Regions from separate parts of the Homo sapiens genome. Here region 2 is linked to region 1. Evidence: fine-mapped expression QTL. Tissue or cell type: whole blood. Region 1 holds a variant in brackets; the other region holds the start of a gene. All regions are shown on one strand. Distances are from middle to middle.

The links. PIP is the estimated chance that this variant, and not a neighbour inherited with it, causes the effect.
Region 2: it holds the start of LIPN, and the variant in region 1 is fine-mapped to the expression of LIPN in whole blood (INTERVAL, PIP above 0.99).

What each region holds. Positions count from the first base shown.
Region 1 is chr10:88,643,283-88,651,598 of GRCh38, reverse strand. No RefSeq gene overlaps it. Among named protein-coding and RNA genes, the nearest start is that of LIPF, 17 kb to the left of the region's middle. The variant G/A (reference allele first, on the strand shown) is at 3,974.
Region 2 is chr10:88,755,998-88,764,313 of GRCh38, reverse strand. It overlaps LIPN (lipase family member N), which reads right to left and starts at 4,294. Exons shown (of 10, transcript NM_001102469.2): 1 at 4,208-4,294; 2 at 2,801-2,916; 3 at 2,009-2,126. The coding sequence starts at 2,908. RefSeq lists an enhancer at 3,940-5,139.

The sequences.
Region 1 (8,316 bases):
TGTGGTTTTTTTAGATTCATATTTTCATGTGAAAAATCCCCCAAATCCAGCCATGTAATTTTGCTTCCTGCCTTCCATCTGCATTTTTGTACTCTGGCTCCAGAAAGCCAAACAGCCTCTGATGTCAGGGATGAGTAAGAAATAGTGAAGGAGTCCAAGAAAAAGTCATGATTAATCCAAAAACTATTTTACATAAATTAGAACATAATGTGTGGAATGAGTCAAAGCTCAGATTATATTCTGTTTTTCTCTTGAAAAATGAAGGCTATCTCATTTGGACTTTTTATCCTAAATCACTTATCTTGAAAGTATTTCCCAACAAGGGACTCAAGGTTCATGAGGTCCTTCATTACCTACTAGTTGGTTTCTTGGTCTCTTGAATTTCCAATGTGTAACCTATCTTTAGTTGTGAGTCATGAAGCTATTTGGCAAATGCTGCAGTCAATGCAAACTTTTCTAATGCAATGAGATTTTTAAAAAAGTTTAGTGTAAGATAAAATGGCAGTTAACTTGTGGTTTGAAGATATGCTCCAAGAAAATATGTTTATCAGAAAGTCAATTGAGGATTCACTTTTCTAATTCAGTAATTCTCACTTTTTGTTTTCAAGACCCTTTACACTCTTAAAATTATTAGGACTTTCAAAAGCTTTTTTAAAAAATGTGGGTTATATGTATATAAAATTAGTGAGACAAGTGCTTTATAGTTTTGCAAATCTCTTTCACGTCTGGCTCCACAAAGCAGTTGGATTTTTATATTTGTGTCTGCATTCAATCTACTGCAATAACAGCAATAAAAGACAAATAATGCATTCATATGATTATGAAAGTACTTTAAGTTATACTTTATTAAAATATTCATAATCAATTAAAGAATTCATTATGTATATCATAGAATTAGTCCAACTTGTCCTATCACATCTACGTCACTTCATTTATACATTAATGTTTGTTGGGAATCCTAGATTTGATTCATATACAGCTACCCGGAGCGAGATATAAAAACTGATCATTTCTGGTGCTGTTTTATATGGTATTAGTTTGACATCACCCATAATCCTTTCTATATTCTCCTCTGTTTAGAAGGGGAGCATGTTTGAATTCTCTTTCCTATGATGTGTTTCTGCTTTTGTCTTAATGAAAGGGTTTTCATTCATTGGGGCAGTTGTGAGCAGGTGCACAGGCTGATAACAGAAACTTATGGTGGCTTCTGGGTGAACTCCTGGGAATCACCCACACAGTGCTGCAGGCACCTGAAATCTGCCATCATGGCTCCCCTTTTATTCCTGAGCTTCACTTGCAGCAACTCCCAGGAAAGTTCCTGTAAATCACTCATTTCTAGCCGTGACTTTTTTTTGATCTTCATTGCTTGAGAAGTTCCATCAGTTCTGTAAGCATCTAATTCCACATATAAGAACACTTTCTGCTTGGAATACTTAGAGTGGCTTCTTTATTCTGACCAGACTTTGATATATACAGCTCAATTATTCTGGGAAAATCATTCGAGTAGTATAAAATTGGTATTTTTTAAATTTTCTTCATATTGAAAATATGTGATTAAGACAATAATATATATAATAGTTATTATGCAACTATTTTCTTTTTAGAATACGTTTATGTTATAAAGAGATAAAATAGTAATTTAAGAAAAAGTTATGGCTATTTGGAAATAAAGAATCACAGGTGCTAAGCCATTAAAAAGAAAGGAGCTCTGTAACAAAAAACTTTGCTAAAGGTGTTTCATAGTTAATAGAAGGGTGGGGACTAGAAATCCAAGTAAGCCCCATAGCAACACTCTCTCCACAATTCCCAGATGCAGAAAGCCCTCTTCTTTAAAGAGAAAATAAATAATTAAATAACTTCATGTGTGTGTAATATATTTTATATACATAATACATGTATGTATATATAATATATATTTACCGTATATGTATTACATGTACGTATAATACATATCTACTATTTATATATTTAATATATGTACATATAATACATATTTCCTACATATATGTATTACATGTATATTCAGGTCCAACGCTGTAACATCCTGTCATCATCCTGTTGGTTTTCTCACTCTTCTCATCCTTTCTTTGTCCAGCCCATTTAATTTGTACAGATATGACTTCCAATATCTCTAACCCAATCTTTCTCCTAAACTTCAATACCATATATCCAACTGTCATTTTGGGATCTAATCTTGGTTCTGTTATTTACTATTTGTAGGATCCATGGCAAGTTATTTAATCACTATAAATTCACTTCTTCACTCTAAAATAAGATTGTTAATACCTACTGCAAAGTATTAAGAATTCAGTGAGACAGTGTATGTAAAGCACCTGGCATACAATAAGCATACAATTAATGGTAACTATTATGACCACTATTAAGATTTTCCCTCCCTCCCCCCTCCCTCCCTACCACCCTCCCTTCTTTCTTTCTTCCTTTCCTTCCTTTTCTTCCTTTTCTTCCCTCCCTTTCTTTCTTTTCCTTTCTTCAGGATCTCACTCTGTCACTCAGACTGGAATGCAGTGTTGTAATCAGTGCTCACTGAAGCCTCGACCTCCCTGGGCTCAGATCAACCTCCCACCTCAGTCCTAGCTATTAAGTTTTTCTTACTGCATGAAGATATGTAACATTAACCTTCTTCCTACTGGATTATTATTATCATTATTATTATTATTTTGAGATGAAGTCTCACTCTGTCACCCAGTCTGGAGTGTAGTGGCATGATCTTGGCTCACTGCAACCTCCACTTCCCAGGTTCAAGTGATTCTTGCACCTCGGCCTCCCAAGTAGCTGGAATTACAGCACCTGCCACCACGCCTGGCTAGTTTTTGTATTTTTTAGTAGAGACGAGGTTTCACCACATTGGCCAGGCTGGACTCCAACTCTGGGCCTCAAGTGATCTGCCCCCCTTCGCCTCCCAAAGGGCTGGGATTACAGGTGTGAGCCACCACACCTGGCTCCTGCTAGATTAAACAACTTTCAGATTGATGCTTTGATCGAGTGATCACTTTATTCTTCTAAAATTTATGTCAGTACTATTTTTGTTTAAATAAATATATTCCTAATTTACATCCTATACAGCATACTCTATGCTCCAATTTCTCTCATTTTGACTTCAGCATTACATATTTTAATCACTGATTTCTCCCTGGGATTTATATAGGTGATTAGAGTTGGGGAGAGCTGGTAGGTGGTGATTAACTATATGGATCTAGTATTTTCTTTTCATTTCTGATACCCATAAAGGATACCACAAAACTTCAGCTTTAGAGTAATTTTGAATTTTGTTAAAATTAATTTTATTGAGGTCTAACTTATATACAAGAAAATTCACACCATTTAAGTAAACACTTAAATGAGTTTGATGACCTCCTTATCCATGTAACCACCAGCCAGTAAAGTTCTAGAACATTGCTATCTACCCAGTTCCCTTAAGCTCCTCCATTGTAGTCAATCATTCTCTATCCCCTTCCCCAAGGAAACAGTAACCTGATTTCTATTGATATAGATTGTTTTCCTATAATCAATGTAAATCATACAGTATGTACTCTTTTTCATTCAGCATTGCAGCTGTGAGATTCATCTATGTTGTTGCATGTGCCAATAGTTTGTTTTTTGATACTGCTGAGTAGTATTTACTGTCTGAATATACCACAATTTATCTATTTACCTCTGATACTTTGTTTACAGTTTTTTTGCTATTAGAGTTAAGGCTGCTATAAACATTTGTGTACAAGTCTTTGGAATGATATACCCTTTCATTTTTTTGAGTAAATATGTAGGAGTGAAATTTCTGGGTCATATAGTAAGTGTATGTTTAACTTTTGAAGAAACTGTTAAACTGTTTTTCTAAAGGAATCACACAATTTTACATTTTTAGTCACTTGCATTCTTAAAAGTTGTGTATGTCTGAGATGAAAACATATTTTAACTTCTTCAGAATCCCCTCTTTCTTCTTCTTGTTTCCCTC[G/A]GTACCTGACAACTCAATGGCAATGTCTAAAGAAATGCAGAAAGTTTGGAAATAGCAAGTTTTTAGACTTGGGAATGGTGGTGTGAAAGGAGTGAAGGAGATTCTTTAACCTCAATCTTAATTCAACTTTATATGACTAATCAGAATTTTCCAGCAGCCCCAGTTCTAATGATCTTTTTCCTCTTGGACATCTCAACAGGAAGTTTCATAGCAAGTGTGAGACCTTAACACTTCAAGTTTATGAATAGGAGAGGGTACATGGTACTGAAAGAATCTAAGTCTGGTTGATTACTTCCTTTATTTTCACTTTATGGGCACAGTGCAGAAGTAGAGACTAATGAGTACTTTCCCTCCCACGGAACATAGAGAACTATTGGGGAAAGCCTTCTCCTGCCCACCTCATGACCTGGGAGTTCTTGGCTAGATGCCCTCAGCATCTTCCCCCTTTCAGCTGATCCCAAGCCTTCCCCGGACATTTTCCCTCATCTTCATGGCATATGCAATGCTTGACAGATTTCCTTGTTTGTAGTTTGTGTGCTTGCATACATGTGTGCATTATTCTAGAGGGACTGGCAGGACTCAGAAAAGGCAGGAGCATGGAGACAATTAAGTGCCAAGTTCAAGAAGAGCTCACTCAGTTTTTCCTGGATTTAATGATAACTTTTATGGTTTTTGGTTTTGAGCCTTTTTTGTTCTTTTCTCTCTTTCTTTCTCTCTTTCTTTCTTTTTTTAATTTTCTCATTTGTATAGAGATTCACTAAGCATTTAAGGTGCTCCAGCTTCCAGGCTCACATCGCTGGGACTAATTAAATCATAGTCCCTACTTTTGTGGCACTCAGAATCAGGTGAGAGAGAGAGATATAGAAAAAAAGTTGCAACTGATTTTGTGTTTATTCAGTGTGATTAAGAAAAAAGAACAATTATAAATGGAGTGGCTTGTTTTCTGTGATCTCCCAAACTAGGCTGTGAGTACTTCAAAGGAAAGCAATGCATTAACTTCTTTTTCCATTCTTTTTGCAAGACCTAGAATTAAATATTAAGAGTAGAAGAGAATCATCTGGTTTGCCTCAGGTCCTCAAGTATTATAGGCTAGGAAACTAAGGCTCTAGGAGATTGACAGAGTTGTGAAAATGTCACAAATCTTGTTACTGATAGATTCAGGGGTGACTACCAAGTCACTTCTCTCTTCATTATACCAATGCCTTCTTTCAAATGATGCAAAATAATTTAATATTTTTATGTATTATTTTTCACACATAGGTCATCGTTTGTAAATACTTGATTTAAACTTGATAAATGGTTTTACTTGGAAAGCAATTACTATAGTTCTGAATCATTGTTCTAATGCCCAAAGTGTATAGTTTTTCAGTATTCATATTTAAATTTAGTGTTTACATTTTGTTATTTTTCTATGCTCCTTAAAAATGATATCCTCCCTTTATCAGCCCTAATTTAGTACAGTGACTTTGGTGAATTATCTGGGACTACATTTATAACTGAAGTTTTGCTGCAAGTAAACAGTTCAACTTCAATAAGTAGAAATGTTTTGAAGCAAAGATGACATGACTGAGAAGGAGGGTTTTTCTTGTGAGGAATGGACAATGGCAAGAAGGAAAATGAGCTCTATCATCTGAGCCTACTGCAGCCACTAAATGACCTGAGTTGTTAAATCCAAGGCTCCATAAACGATTCTTACAGAGATGAATTTATTGCCAACTTGTCAATTTGTTACCTGTTCTACATCAAAATATTACACAAATGTCACAAAGAGAAGAGGGAAAGCGTCTATTCCTCGACTGAATCTCTGAGTCTGATCCCCCAAATCTTCTTTTCTTGCATGTCTTCCCTTCTGCTGCAGTTCTTATGACACCATAAAAGAAGCAGAGTTGATCTTCTGAGTTTCTTTCTCTTGTTCACCTTTTCTTATCCCCTAATTCCAGTGTTCACAGTGACCTTTGGAGAATCTGCCCCATCCTCTCCCTTTCTGTAGCATCTCTCTCACTCTCCCATAGAACAAATGCTATCTCCCTTTACATTCTCTGTGTTTTCATATACTTTGGGCCTTTGGCAATTTCTGCTTTTGGTTTGCAGCCTATTGGGTATTAATGGCTATTTTGGTTTAATCACATGAACGCATTTTATCTGATATGTACACTGGTTTTTGCCTTACTGCTGCAGATTAAAAAAAAAAAAAAAGAAAAAGAAAACCTCCAAAGAGGTGACAGCAAAAATGAAGAATTCAGGAAAAAAGATACAGGAAATAAATTTGAAGCGTATTTCTGAGATCCATGACATCACAATATGTAGGTAGTAACATTCCTAACTCTTAGTGAATTAAAGGTGCTATTGTGTCACTGGCTGCTTCTTTCCATTCAGTTCCTCCACCTTAGTTCAAAACCTCATTATTTTGCCTTCATTATGGCATCAAACTCCAAACTCAATGTTTCTCTTAGAGTGTTCTGTGGGTCACATGTCTCTGAATCACCTAAAGTGCTAATTAAAATTGTAGATACCTGCAGTCAGCTCCAGGCCTGCTGAATCAAAATTTCCTGGGCTAGGGCCTGGGATTTATGTAAATAAGCACTCCAAGTGACACCAGTTTTATCACTGATTGATTGATTCATCAGGAATCTACTGTTTTCTAGACATTATATTAGGTAAATCATGCCAAAGTAGATCTGTTTCCTGTCCTTACAGAGTTTACAGTGTAGTGGCTTATGACAGACATTAAACAAGTTGGCACACAGATACTTACATAAGGGCAATGTGGTGAATACAGGAACAAAAAGACTAAAGTGTAGAAGGTAGGAAAAGGTGAAACTGCTTTCATAGTCAGAGAATGATTTGAGAAAGTAGTATTTAAATGTGAGAACTGAAGGATGAGAAGGTGCTAGCTGGGTGGGGAGTGTGGGGAAATTATTTCAGGGAACAGATCTTAAAACTCTCAGCTTGGAAGATGCTTGTTTGAGGAGCTGAAAGTAGGCCAAATTACTGAAGAATTGAGAATGAGGACGAGAGTTGTGTGAGATAAGTGGAATGATGATAAACAATTTAGCCTGTTAGGAGATTGCCCTGGCAACTATGAGAAAGATGTGTTAGAGGGGTTCACATAAACACAGGTCAAAGGCAGAGACTCAGGTCAACAGCAGAGAACTAACAGTCGCTTGGACTAGAGTGATGGCCTGGGTGCAGACAGATTTGAGATAAATTTAAGAGCTAGAATGAGCTAGACTTGGAGTTTTTAGACATGAGCAGATTTCTCACCTGGCCCAATGAAGTTATTATTTTGCCATTTAATGAGCTGGTAAAGACTAGGAAACTGAAAAGTTATTAAAGGGAAATCCAGAGGTGAGATTTGGACACATTAAGTTTGAAATGATCACCTCTTCACCACCACTCTATTACCCACCCTGGTATTACTTTCCTCCTTCATTCCCTCTATTCCTTCAGTTTCACATTTCTTACTCCTGTCTCTGACATCTAGGTGTGTCCCTGGGAGATCTCTAGTTTGAGAATTATGACTCTACATTGAACTACTAATAGATTCTAAAAAGCACTATGTTCTTGTTCACCTCTTCAGTTTGGTACTTCTGCATCCTTGTCCTAAAATGATTTCAATGCCGTTTTCCATGTGGGCAACCTCTAGTCAATTTCAAATATTTCTGCTATGGATTCTACTACGTTCTCCCCAAACAAATGTCATTCCTCCTTTGTGCCATCATTTTTCTTTGGCCCTAATTTTTGAATAACTTCTATCATATTGTTTTGACATGTTTGGTTCACATGTCTATTTTTCAATAACGCTATATAACTTGATATAGGAAGCATGCCTTATTAGGTATTTAATAGAGACCAGGGTCTCACTGTCTTGCCCAGGGTGGTCTCAAACTCCTGGACTCAAGGTATCCTCCTGCCTCAGCCTCCAAATGCGCCGGGATTACAGGCATGAGCCACTGCACCTGCCTTCTGCAATCTTCTTATGAAACAAACAACCTTCCAACTCTGAAAGCAGTAATATGAAGGCAGAAAATGAACTAAAATTTGTAAGGAGACTGAGAAGAGTGTTTACATTGCATAGCAATCCCAAAGTTTTAAAACTCCTCTTTTAGGTATATCGCTTTTTCTATAAACTTTCTACTACCTCTAATAGTAGCCACATAGTCCTTTCTTCTTATTTTTCTTCCTTCTCAGAAGCAATTGGCTTTAATTTTCCTCCTTGCAGTCCCTCTCTGAATTTCTATATTCATGGTATTTTAGTCAACAAGACAAAAGTTTGACAAAAAATATGAAGCAAAATAAAAATTCTGACTTCAGCCATAACTTCAAAAATCTGTATTTATTTA
Region 2 (8,316 bases), 110 kb before region 1:
ATCACAGACACACACACATACACACATGGTAAAACAAAAACTGTTTTCACTTTTCCCTTGTCAATAGTATAGAGCATTATAATCAGGTAACTTCAGTTTCTTGAGCACATATTTTTGTACCTGGTGCTATGTTGACGTATTTATATGTATTAGCTTACTAAATTCTTGCAACAACTCTATAAACTAGCTGCTATTTTGAGAAACCTCATTTTGTAGATATGGAAACAAAACTTTATGTAGTTAAGTAACTTTCCCAGAGGGCCACCCAGATAAGAAGGCCAGAGCAGGGACTCAAACCCAGTTCTTTTTATGTCAAAGTCTGTCCTGATAACTACTGTGCTCTATGTATTTGTATATACAAATTTCCTGGGTGTGGTTTACAAAGACACAAAATTTATCATGCTTACTCAAGTCCTATAGCTCTTCCAGGGAGGAAGAGGAGGTGAGTGTAAATGGACACTGATTAGTTCCTCACCAAATTTCTATTCAAATCCCCATCCTCTGTCCAGTGGAGAGCATTTAAAAACTACAATAATATGCTCAGCTCAGTGTCCCTCTGCCAACTTCCAGATTTCTGAGGGAGAGAGAGCATTCAGGGAGATCCAAAGAACCAGGGTGGAAGGTCAAGTAAGGCACTATAATTTAATGACTAAGAGCACAGGCTCTGGAGCCAGCATGCCTGGGCTTAAATTCTGGTCTGTCAGCTTGCTATTTGTGGACTTTAGGCCTCTTAACATAACCGGTTGTGCCTTAATTTCATCATTTGTGAAATGGTGACTATTAGTGGTACCCATCTCATATTGTTGATGAGAAGTTTAACTGATATAAAGTATTTAGAACATTACATCTAATGAATGATCTTTAATTCTAAATCTTTCCAAAATTATCTCTCCTTAAGCCAAATCTTTCCCATAAAAGTTTTCTCCTTTTATATTTCACAGCTCCTTCACACATGTGCCTGGGATTGCCAGATTTAGCAAAAAATAAAAACAAAAGTAAGCAAAAAGTTCCAGGATGCTCTACAAAATTTTATAAATAGTGATAATAGTGAATAAATAATGACTTTTTAGTATTATCTTAAAATGAGACTTATACAAAATTATTTGTTGTTTATCTGACCTTCAAATTTAACTGGGTGTTTCATATTTTAACTAGTAAAACTACTCATATCTCACTCTCATTTTTCATTCTGAAACTGGAGATAAAAGAGGGAGAGAATGTCAAACATGACCTCAGCTGCTCCTTAATATGTGTGGTGGGAAAAAAGATGCAAAATGAACACGGTAAGCAGCTGCCAATAAATTATTTGCTATTGAACCATTGCAGATATTTTGGTTATTCTTATCATTTCTACTTCAGAGGATTTGTAGTTAAATTTTCCCTTTTAAGGAGTATCATTCCCCTGCTATGGCATGGCTGGCTCCTCATTCTAGAATTCAAGCCTTATTGACACCATACTCTTTCATTCTATGAACCGTCTGTCCCTTAGATCAAAGTGTATGTGGATGTTAAGGTTTTCAGTCCTGGAAAACTTTTCAGAAATGCGTTGTCATTTAACTAGATTGTTTTTTATCCTGCAGAGGGAGGCCCCTTAATTTTAGTGGGAGCAGGAGAGGTTCTTCTTGGGTGCCCCAGAGTCAATTTCATACAACCTAGAAAATCTCCTTCTGACAATGAGAGGATCCATTTTCCTGGGACAAAGCAATTTTCCACATGATAAATCAGTAATGAGGTGACAAAATGCAGGCTCTGCCTTTCTGTTTACACCCTAACAAGTACCTCTGGTTGCAGTTAGCAAGATCAGTCTTGCTGTTTGTATTTTTAGGTTCCTGTCTGTCTTCAGAGAATTATCAGGCAAAGAGTGAGCCTCCCTGATAACTATTTAAAGACTAATCCAATAATTCAAACCAATTTTGATAAACTCTGTTGATGCATATCTAGCATTAAATTCCTCCTGAGAAGCAGGAGGTCAATGCAGTCCCCTTTTCAGGAGAGACATATCTTGTACCTGTGCTCCTAGCATGTGTTCGCCCATAAGGAATTCTGTTGACAAGGAGTATATACCCATCTTCAGTGGTGACTTCATACTCTTCACTGGGGTAGCCATTGTAGATGATGATTTCACTCTGCCCAGTAAAAATACAGTCGTTAGTGGAACTTCTCCAAAGGATATAAAAAGGAATCAAAACAAACCATCTGTTGTGTGCTTATTAGGGTGAATTATCTGAAATTTGTAGCACCAGGTAACTGTAAAATTAATAAATAAAGTCTTAATACAAAATAAGTAGAATTTTAAAAAATATCTACTATTGGCTAATATTTTGGGGGGTTGGGGGAAAATTTAGCATTGACCCATTCTTTCTGACAAAGCTATATTATCAAGTCAATTGTCTTTTGAGACCCCTCTTGCTTTAAAAGTAATAGAACTATAGATCAATAGAAGGCAATCATGTACATCAACAAATAGCTTGATATTCTTAAAACATAAATTCAAAAGAGGAGGTTCTATCTATAGATAGATAGATAGATAGATAAATAGATAGATAGATACATAGATAGATAGATAGATAGATAGATAGATAGATAGATAGATAGCACAATAGCACAATTTGGTTTTCATTACCGGACAGTATTTGTTTTTCAGACAAAGATCTAACTAGCTTGACTCTTGCAGAGGTTAAAAACCATCTACATTTTATCTGTTTTATCAGAGATTTTCTGTTACAACAGGACCTTTCGTAACCTCATACTCCATTAGTCCTGCTTTATTTGATGTTCTTCACAGTTTTCCATGACTTACAGTATTCATCCACACCTCAGGATTCACTTCATTTTCCAAATCAAGGAATCCACCAGCATTTAAAGTTCCACAGATCAAACAAGTTGTTGTTAAAAGCAGCCACATCATAGAAATGCCTGGCATAAAACATTTAATATTCACAGATTAATTTTAACTATCAATGTTGATTAATGAAATAAAATGATTAGTGAAATTATTAATGATTAATGAAAACTTGAATAACACCGAAGGCAGATAATGTATAAAAAGGAATAAATACAGTGAACTAACTTGGAGCACTATTAATCTATTTTTTCATGTAGAAGTTGTCTTGATTATAATCCAGTTCCTAAAATGAAATAAATTTAATCAAGTATGGAGGCATTTTTGGTCTTATTTTAATCAAGGTTGAATTGCTTTAAGTCTTTGTTTGCCTACAATTTGACAAAATATCTAAAGATTCAGAGGACAGGTTTTCATACCATGGCCAAGTAAAAAGTGGAGGTATCCCCTAGTTAAGCCCAGTATCCCACAAAGTAAACAAGAAAAATGGATCAATAAAACTTTAACCAAACACAAAAGCTTATGATTAGTTTCTAGTGATGTGATTATTTCTCACGTGGCACCCAAAGGCAAATTTTGCGTATTTCAATGTGCAGTCTCACTTCCTTGCCATGGTTTAAAAGTATGTCTATTCAAAGGTAGACCAACACTATAACACTAAACAGCGTGCTCATCATATAAGTGCTACAGTCAAATGGTCTAAATTTGAAATCCAGCCTCACCACAGAAGAAGATGTCTAACCTCAGGCAAGTGTTTTAGTAGCTTTGTCTCTTGGTTTCCTTGTTAGTAAAATTAGGACAATAATGTAACCTATCTCATAGGGTTATAGTGAGGATTAAGTCATATATAACATTTAGTGCAGTGTAAGTTCTTAATAAATGCTTTCACTATTTTTCTTATAAAAGTGAGCAAGAGATAAATATTACAGATAATTCACTATAACAAAGTAATATTTAACTTCTAGAAATGCAGAGTTTACTTCTGAAGCTAAATAGCTTTGCATACATTAGCTATCTGGTTGAAGATCATCTTATATCTGCAAATATTATGAAACTTTTCAAATTGTATGAAACTAATAATAAGCTACTGAGTCCCCTTATGGCAGGCATTACTCTAAATAGTTCACGTATGTTATTTAAGCTCTGAAAATCTCCCTAATTTTGGTACTATTATTATCCTCATTTTATCAATTAAAAAAACAAAGGCTTAGAGAGATTTAAGACCTGCTCAAGGTCACAGAGCCAAGAGGTGAGAGATCTAGGATGGACACTCAGGCAGCCTCACTGCAGAGCTCTTGCACCTGACTGCCAGTGCAACTGGCACCTTCCAACCTGCCTCCTGGTTATGATAGATCTTCATCTTACCTAGTTAGATGAGCTTCACCTGCTCACAAGGACTCCTTATTGATGAGGAACTTCTGAACTTTTGCTTTTGACATCAGGCTGAAGAGTAAGAGATGATTACAGTGACAGTTAGAAGCTAGAGAGATGAGAAACAGGAAGCTTGTGAAAAGGAGGAAGCTTTAGACTGAGACACACACCCAAGGCGTGTCCCTGACACACCAAAGGCCATGATGCACTTGCAGGTTGGGAAATAGTGGTCTACATGATGCAAAATAACCAGTTTGACGGAATCCTTCATGTTTCCACTGAGTATCTGTCATTGTTGGGAAGACTTAGCAACATTTTCAAACCAGTGTGTCAAACAGGGAAGTAGAACATACTCAAGATCTTAATGGACAATCAGAGACAATAGTATCTCCCTTCCCCATTTGATCCTTCATGAGGATCAAACGGAGTAACATATATCAAGGAACTAGTGCCAACCATGCAGTGCGTAGGGATGTGCGTGACTGTAACTCATTTGAGAAGATGAGGCAACCCTGACTCCTAAATCCTGAAACCAGAAGGAATTTGGAACTAGCAGTATGGCAGAGGAAACTAATTCACATGCCAAAGGGATTTGGGTTGCTGTCAACTTTGGCACAGTAACCTTTGTTTACACCAGTGGTTAAAGGCAGAAATGGAGGCCAAATAACGACAATTTACCTCTAAGCCCCACATGAGATACCAGATAATGGAGGCACACGTGCCTCAGTTTTCTGCTTCACTTTGTATGCCTGTGGAGCTTAAGCCGTAACTGAATCTCTTTCATCTCCCAGCATGAAGAAGGGTAGGGAAAACTAAGTTGCTACCCAGCATAATATAGAAGTTTCAGTTCTATTAGTTTGGATTTATCCTCAAATCCTTTCAAAAAAAATGATATTTTGTGTTGTCCAAATCCTAAGATCTGTTTTAGTGGAGTGGGAAATTTCATGCCAATTAAACAAATGTGGAGTAAAAGGAAGTGTTCAGCTAGTCAGAACAGGGAAAAGTTATGTACCACTCCTTAATCATTTAGTCTTGATGAAAGACTCAAGCATGTTTTGCCCTGATTGATAGTATGATGGCATAGGTATGTGGATTTTCCTGGAATTTCTCATGGTTTTTAACTTCAAAAACAATCCTTTCTAACAAAACTTTATTGGACTCTTTAGAAAGTTCTAGAAGTGCTATGTTATTATTATTAATATTGATTTGTTGCCTTGACTTAATATGGAAATAGCACAAATATAGTTCAATTTCACAGATCTTTACAGATTGTAGGCTAGCTCAAATCTTAAAAGAGTTTCTACATCATTGACTTATATTCCCTCCTCAACTTCGAGTTATTTGAATAATCTGGACAATTCCTGTAATTCTTTTGTTTGTGCAGAAACAAAGTAATGTCAAAGAAATAAAGCTGAAACTTTCTCACAATGCTCCATCACTCTTCCTATATAAGCTTGCTATTTTAATAAGTATTTAATATATTACTGAGTATTATATATTTTTCTGTATTATATATTGTTCTACAATATTTAATAATATATTCTGTAATATATATTTTCTATATAATAAAAGTATATAGAAAATATATAATGTTACAATATTTCTATTATATATTTCAATACTCATACTGAAATTAATTTAAATGAATACATTAAAACTTGTTCCTTGGCCCTGTGGGATACAAAATGGTAGCCCCTACTCTCTAGAAGCTCAAATTTTTCCTTTTTTTTTTTTTTAATAAAATTAGATGATAGTGGAGCTAGAAAGGGGTAACCTTTCAGAAGGCCTGTGGTATTTTTGAAATCTCAGTCCAAGAATCATATTACGGCCTAAGCTAACTGCTTAATGATGGTTACTCATTCAATTGTGAAGATGGTGGAACACACATGGTTGAACATAGATCCTTGACTTTGGGATCTACCTGTAAAAATGATTATTATTTTTCTTCCAATGTCCTATTCAAAACACATTTCCTATTACAGTGTGGTTATCTTTTTGTTTGTTGGATTGCTTCTTTCTCCTCAAAGGCTGCTTTTTCAAATTTTCTCTTGAAAATAACTCAAAGTTAAAAAGGTTAGGCCATAACCAGCAAAATGGAAACTAGTGAGAATTTTGAAAAATAAATAATTTGAACCTCACACTTTTGAGACAAATTTCACCCTACAGTAAAAAGACTGTGCATGAACAAGAACCTGGATTTTGTCTCTTGCTCACTAGATAATTTATCTAATTTATTTTGCATCCTAAAATTCAAACAGTGCTCAATAGAACCATAAGTGTCCATAAGTCTATATGTGTGTGTGTAAAATTATTAATTAGCACACTTTTGCTTAAGAGAAAATACTTTATATTTTAAAATTTCATCTCTTTACTCAAAGCGAAGTTGGGAATGTTCATAATTACTACAAGAAACAGTGTTGTTTTTGAGATTACATATTAGCGTAGAACATGCTTTCTTTTAGTGTTAGTGAAAATGAATCTCTGTTTCAGTGACATCTATACTACATCCATCTTTAAAAACAATAATGGCTATAATAGAAGAGAGAAGTGACAAAAAGATCTATCAATCATAGTTAACTAAAATATTAAAGATTTTTGAAGAGGCCATAATAAGTTTATTGAACACACATCCATCTCAACTCAAAATGTTCAAAGGAAAGATCACTTACATTTAAAGAGAAATTATTACCAAGAGTGCCGGCAGCTGTCCTTGATAACGTCCATGTTCCGGAGTGACACGATCAGGACCATCCGTGTTTGTGACAAAGGTCAAATCCTTGTGAGAATGAAGAGGAAGGGCCATACCATTGAATATGAGGAAAATTATATCATTTTCCTGCCCCAGGCGGATCTACCTTCCTCGCTTCCTGCTTAATGTGCAGCATGTATGTGTGGTATTCTCTAGAGCTCATTTTGTATTTGAATTTCTGTAGGAGGTATATTCAAATGTAGATTCTTTAAAAAAAAAAAGACACAGGACACTTAGCTAGACATTCAAGTTGGATCTAGTTTTAATTTGTCTCATCTAATTTGCAAGAGTAAATAAATGGTGATTGGAATGTGCAAAGAGGTAACATTGTTGTTTTGATATATGCTCCTGTTTTTTTTTCCTGAGTTAATGTTCTATTTTGAGTTACTATTAAATCACCTTCAAATCTCACCAGCACCCCTGAAAATAGATAAATTGTTTTTAGAGTTTCTTAATTTCATTCCTCCTCTAATCACCATCATCATCAAAAATTTTTGCGGACTGAGTGAATGAGTGATTGAATAGATGATTCTGGAAGTCCAGAGAATGCAGCTTAGTTACTGAAGAATACTAATAATGTTATTATAAATAATAATAGTGAATTATTTATTATTTATTAAGTACATAGTATGTGTCAGGTATTTTACTTTGATATGCTACCAACTTGGCTGTAAATTCCACTGGCTTTCTTTGCTGTTACAAAGGAAATTTTTCTTAACATTACCTACTAAATTTAATAGAAAACAGGAAATTCACGGGAAAAATTCAATCTTGTCCTGTTTTTTAACTAAATTGGAAGAGATACATTGCTATTTACAGATTGCAAACCACACGAATACAATTTAAAAATTGCTACCTGATAGCATTTTTTCTCTTTTTCAGCCTCCAAATTATTCTTAAACCTAGTAACCACTATAGCACAATCTGATATCTTTTACACAGTCTGTATTTTTTCATTTTTCCATACATTTAAAAAATCTTATAAATGCAGAGATATTCCATTTTCCTAGAAATAACCAGAATTTTCAGGGGATAGTTACCTTACTCTTTTCACTATCTGAGCATGGTCCAATAGAAATATAATGTGAATTAGGTATTTAATTTAAATTTTCTAATGGCCACATTTTTAAAAAGTATAAAAGGTGAAATTAAATTTTAAAATGCATTTTATTTAAACCAATGTGTTCAAAATATTATCATTTCCATATGTAGTCAATATCATTATTAGTGAAATATTTTCTGATATGGTTTGGCTGTGTCTCCACCCAAATCTCATCTCAAGGGAGAGACCTGGTATGAGGTGATTTGATCATGGGGGTGCTGTCCCTCATGCTGCTCTCATGATATTGAGTGA